Linked DNA regions of Homo sapiens: region 1 is linked to region 2. The links come from fine-mapping of genetic effects on gene expression. A gene starts in region 2. The other region holds a variant in brackets. All regions are shown on one strand. Distances are from middle to middle.

Region 1 (2,906 bases), 100 kb before region 2:
AAGGAATGTCCAGATACCACAGGCATCAATTTGTGGAAGACTAAAATACTAAGCTATTAGCACTGACATTTATATATCCAATTTATCATAATATTGGAGCTAACTTTTCTAATTCAACAAGAGTAAGAACAAATCTTGTCACGAGGAAAAATCCCCATTGAAATCGCCACCCATTGAAATCACCATCCATTAAAAAATAAATAAATAAAAATAAAAGTTGTGTCACTTAATGTGTGTGTACATTTGTTTTTTCTAATGGTTTATTGCTTTTTATTTCTCTTTCTCCCTCCTTCCTTCCAAATCTCCATCTATCATTTACTACTCAAACAAAAGTTTTTTTCCTAACAAATATAACCATGGAAAGACTAGTAGTACCATTGTTCAATTGAAAAAAAAAGAACTTATTCAACAAACATTTATTGAGCATCTATTATATGCCAGGTATTGTGGCAGGTAGTGATATGGTTTGGCTGTGTCCCCACCCAAATCTCATCTTGGGTGGCTGTGTCCTCATCCAAATCTCATCTGGAAATGTAGCTCCCATAATCCTCACAGGTCATGGGAGGGACCTGGTGGAAGGTAACTGAATCATGGAGACGGCTTTTCCTGTGCTGTTCTCATGATAGTAAATAAGTTCTCATGAGATCTTATAGTTTTATAAAGGGCAGTTCCCCTGCACATGCCATCTTGCCTGACGCCATGTAAGGCGTGCCTGTGCTCCCACAGGAGATTTTAGCCCTAGGGGAACTGTCAGACCTGAATGATGCAGGGCAGTCCTGCCTATCACACAGGGCTAGTCCAACCTCAGCATCCCTTGGTCTGCTGCCCTCTCCTGAGGTCCCAGCCTGGCCATACTTGCTTGCAGTGCAGTCTTGGATGTACTGGGGGTCCACATTATACCTCTGCACTGGTGCACTGCACCTGACTGGTGGAAAGTAGTACTCACCGCCATGCACCAGCCTCCCTCGCCCCAGTGAACCCTGCCAACCCCACCACCTCCAGAGCCTCACCCCTGCACCAACACTGCCGCAAGAGTGAAACTAGGAAGGGAGAACAATGGACCTCCCCTACCCTGAGCAGCCACCCCACCTGAGTGATCATGCACAGAGGGCAGGCACAGACCTGCACCCGCCAGCACCCGACCCCCATGCTAATACCACCACCAGCACAGTAGCCAGCAGGGGCCCTCAAAGCAGTATTGCCTCTGCTGCTGCTGTGAATGCCTGCAGGGAGGCAGGCACCTGCTAGCACCCTGCTGCAGTTGATGAGTGTGTACCCCACC[GTGC/G]TGCTGCTGCTGCTGCTGCTAGCACATGCAAACAAGGACAAATCCCACTGCCGCTGCCTTACGAAACACTTTGGCTAGTACCACCTACTGAAGTGTAATGACCAGTGGTCCAGGAATACGTAGGTCCCACCAGCACAGTGGGTTCCTAACCTCGAGGAGTCAGAGAACAAATCTGGGGCTGGATACAAGTCCCCCAGATTTAGAGCATGCAGTCCAGGAGCTGGGAGCTGAGGCTTGGCCCCCTAAAATCTTCCAGAAATGAAGCCAGTTGACTGAACCCACTTTATACCACAATCAAACTCTCAAGGTCATCAAATAGGATAAAAGAAAAAAAGTCCAAAGATCAGCAACATCAAAGACCGAAAGAACATAAGCCCCCAAAGATGAGAAAGAATGAACATAAGAACTCTAACAACTCAAAAAGCCAGAGTACCTTCTTTCCTCTAAATGACGGCACTACTTCTCCTGCAAGGGTTCTGAACTGGACTGAGATGGCTGAAATGACAGAAAAAGAATTCAGAATATGGATAGAAACGAAGGTCACTGAGATGCAGGAGTATGTTGAAACCCAATCCAAGGAAGATCCAAATGATACAGGAGCTGACAGACAAAACAGCCAGTACAGAAAAGAATATAGCTGACCTGATAGAGCTGAAAAATACACTACAGTAATTTCATAATGCAATTCCAACTATTAATAGCAGAATAGATCAACCTTAGGAAAGAATCCCAGAGCCTGAAGACTGGCTTCCTGAAATAAGTCAGACAAGAATAAAGGAAAAAGAATGAAAAGGAATGAACAAAATCTCTGAGAAATAGGAGATTACATAAAGAGAACAAATCCACAACTCATTGGTGTCCCTGAAACAGATGGGGAGATTGGAAGCAAATTGGAACACATATTTCAAGATATCATCCATGAGAATCTCCCCAACCTAGCTAGAGAGGCCAACATTCAAATTCAGGAAATGAAGAGAACCCCAGTAAGATACTTCACAAGAAGATCATCCCCAAGACACATAATCATCAGATCCTCCAAGGTTGAAATAAAAGGAAAAATGTTAAAAGCAGCTAGAGAGAAGGGTCAGGTCACATACAAAGGGAAGCCCATAAGACTAACAGACCTCTTACCAGAAACCCTAAAGGCCAGAAGGGTTAATATTCAATGTTCTTAAAGAAAAGAAATTCCAGCCCAGAATTTCATATCTGGCCAAACTAAGCAAAAAAGAAATAAGATCCTTTTCAGACAAGCAAATGCTCAGGGAATTCTTAGCAGACCTGGCTTACAAGAGCTCCTAAAGGAAGCAGTGAATATGGAAAGGAAAGACCACTATCAACCACTACAAAAACACACTTAAGTACACGGACCACTGATACTATAAAGCAACCACACAAAAAAGTCTGCATAATAACCAGCTAACCTCATGATGACATCCACATGCGAAAGAATAAAAACAGACTCTTATCTTTCACCATAAGCAAAAATCAACTCAAAATGGAGTAAAGGCTTAAATTTAAGACCAGAAACTGTGAAATTCCTAGAAGAAAACAAGAGAAATGCTTACAGACATTGGTTTGGGCAAAGATTTTTATGGATGAGACCTCAAAAGCACAGACAACA
Region 2 (2,906 bases):
TATAAAATTTTACATCTTTCCCAGGTGACCTCGAAACTCAAATGTCAGAACCAAAGGCAGAAGCAGGTATCTGGGCAGTGCCAACTGTCAGGGAGGATGCAAAGAGAAGTCGTCACCAGAGAAACCAGGGTCCGAAATGCAACCAGCAACAGGGAAATGTGAAGCCTTAAACAGGAAATAAAAGCCTGGGTTTCTTTAGACTATGGTTGGGATAAGGAAGGGGAGTACAGGGGTGATAAACTTTAGCAATATTCCCAGAAAGTGTTGGCGCCTTTGACAGAAGCATGGGAAAGAAGGCATCCGGGTAGAGGCTCTTCACTATTTGCTGGTGGAGGGATCATAGACCCCTCTGAGATCTTATGGACCCTCTCCCCAGAGCACGTACCGGGCAGTATTTACTCCATTTCAGGAGTTCCACAGCCTTGGGGTAGGAGCCCCTGCCTAGGAGATAATAAGACTGACGCTGCCTGATATTCTCACGCCCGCATTCATTCATTCGAACAGGGGATCCCTTTTGTCACGCAAGCAGCTCTACCCTCAGCATCCTACCCGTAACAGGAGCTCCATAAACACTTGTTGACTGACTGCTTGTATCGAGTGCTGAGCTGGAAACAGAGGTGATGAACAGGTATGATATTAAAATAGCAACTAGAGTGTACTGAGTGGACACTGTGCTCTAAAGGTTTTATGTGTATTTTCACATTTAATATGTATTTTCACATTTCTCCCTTTGCGGCGGCCCTTTTCAATACCCATCTTACAGATGAAGCTTAAACTGATTAGCAATTTGCCCTCCAATGACCCGACGACTAAGTGGCAGAGCCCCAATTCTCACCCGGGGAATACTGATTCCAGAGCTACGCTCCTGGGAGCTCACGATGCAGTAGAAGCATCAGAAACGGTAAAGGGGGTGGGAGGGGAGGAGTAAGTGTGACCCAGACTACAAGTAAGAGGAGCTAAGATGCCTTGGCAAATCCCTGCCAGTCCTGAGAGGCGGGAAGCTGAAAGGCTGGCCCGAGTCTTGCAGGAGTTCGCAATCCAGGCGGGGAGTTAGGAAGTGACTCTTTTTTAAGGGGGAGCTGGACAGCTCTCGTCGGCCTTCACCAAGCGCCCACTTCGTGTCCGGCCTCAGGCCACACAACCAGAAGGGCCCGGGCCTAGAAGCCCGAGGGCTCGGGGTAACGAGGCGACGCCGGGCGGCGGGGAGGAGGCCGGGGACCGCCGGGGTTCCTGCAGGCCTGGGACGGCGGGCCTGCTCGAGGACTGACCTTCCCGGAGGCGCCGTCCCCCAGCACGACGATTTTCAGTTGCCGGTCCTGGCTCTCCTCCTCAGAGTCCGACATGGTGTCCCGGGAACCAGGCCCGCCCCTCGAGGTGGGGGGGGAAGGGAAGGATGAAGGCTCCGGGGGCGGGGGAGAGGAGGAAGGGAGGTAGTTGCGGCAGGACCCCCGCCCCGGTGTCTCCGCGCCGGCAGGAGGTATTCGAGGAGAATCACTCGGCAAGCGCCATCTTGCCCACCTCCCCGCCCTCTGCGCGCGGCCCCGCCCCCTACGCGCACGTCGGGCGCGCGCCCCCGCCTCAGAGCCAACCCGCGCCGACCGGCGGCCCCGCCTGACGAGCCGAACCACTCGCGGCCCTGGACTGGTGTGGGGGACATTCCGGCGGGAGAGGCGAGGCGCTGCGTTTCCCTTCAGGAGACAGTTGGCTAGAAGAAGAAAAGAAGTGTTCGTTCAAATTAAGGAGAGAAAACGGGAGCAGAGCAGCTTTCAGGCGTTCCATCAAATTCCCTTTTCTCCTTCCCTCTTGAGAAAGTCTCTGAAGGGAATGGTTCAGCCTGACGGGGTGGAGCAGTGACGCCCGGGCTACGCGCCAGGGTTGCCTGGCAGCCAGGAGTTCGAGGACCGGCGGCGGGGCGGGGCCTGTCTCCGGGCACCCGGGACGCCCGTAGCCTGGCGGAGAGCGCCAGAGAGGGCCCCTGAAAAACCGGACCAGGGAAGAGGGTACCTCGGGGCGGATGAGGGGACAGCTGCTAAGGGCCGAGGCTGCTGGGAAGCCTCAGTAGCGGCCGTGAATACAGTGGAGCTCCGGCGCTGCTTATTTCGGCCTAACTCTTGGTTTCCTCATCTGAACAACCCCAGGCTCCCATGGTTCGTTCATCAGACGCTACTGATCGCCAACCTCCTGGCACCCCATCTTTACCCTAAGGCAGCAGTTCTCATAAAGTGTGGTCTAGGGACCTCTGGAAATCCCGATGACCTCAGAACAATTTTCATAATAATACGGACACCTTGTCTGTCTTTCTCACGTTCCTTCTCTCACTAGTATACCGTTTCCTGGAGGATACGCTTTGTGTACGACGTCATCACTGGCAGCTAAGGGAGCTTGCGTTTGTTGTTTTTAAACATTTCTCAGTTTTCATTTCAATGCAGTAGTGATAGGTGTAACCCACATAAACATAAGCTCTTTGGAGGTCACAGTAATTCTTTAACATTATAGAGAGGCCCTGAGTCCAAAAAATTTAAGAACTGCTGCCCTGGATAATCTCAGTCCAGGAGCGTTAGGTAAACGGCATAAATGAAATTTACAATTTAGTGAGGTAAATTCAAAAATAATAATGCTGTCCTGCTATGGTTGTTTCATTGTTAATCACTTAAAATTTATTGTTACCTTTACTACTATTAGGAATTATGAAGTATAATTATCCCCATTTTGCAGATGAAGTATCTTAAGTTAACAAAATGCTTAGCCCAGAGGCAGTAGTCTTGGAGACCATATGGGCATTAGAACAGGAAAGCAGAACAGTGTAAAGAAATGCCCAGACCTAGAGGCATCACTGGAGTTTAATCTCATGTTTACTAGATATGTGTCCTCGAGCCTCAGTTAGTTCACCTGTAGAACAGACTACT

Alleles and levels. Alleles are on the strand shown, and positions count from the first base shown. SD is a standard deviation of normalised expression in the study named.
For the expression in monocytes after R848 of the gene that starts at base 1,533 in region 2, G is the high allele of the variant in region 1 and GTGC is the other (large effect, 1.5 SD a copy in Quach 2016).

Evidence for each region. PIP is the estimated chance that this variant, and not a neighbour inherited with it, causes the effect.
Region 1: its variant is fine-mapped to the expression of RAB28 in monocytes after R848 (Quach 2016, PIP 0.95).

The regions. Positions count from the first base shown.
Region 1 is chr4:13,383,090-13,385,995 of GRCh38, forward strand. All of the region lies in intron 4 of RAB28 (RAB28, member RAS oncogene family), which reads right to left. Among named protein-coding and RNA genes, the nearest start is that of RAB28, 100 kb to the right of the region's middle. RefSeq lists an enhancer at 1,102-1,601. The variant GTGC/G (reference allele first, on the strand shown) is at 1,283.
Region 2 is chr4:13,482,808-13,485,713 of GRCh38, forward strand. It overlaps RAB28 (RAB28, member RAS oncogene family), which reads right to left and starts at 1,533. Exons shown (of 7, transcript NM_001017979.3): 1 at 1,269-1,533. The coding sequence starts at 1,343. LOC105374495 (a long non-coding RNA gene) reads left to right here and starts at 1,642. Exons shown (of 3, transcript XR_925413.1): 1 at 1,642-2,147. RefSeq lists silencers at 1,065-1,684, 1,678-1,972, 1,935-1,994 and enhancers at 1,418-1,712, 1,508-2,415, 1,675-1,794.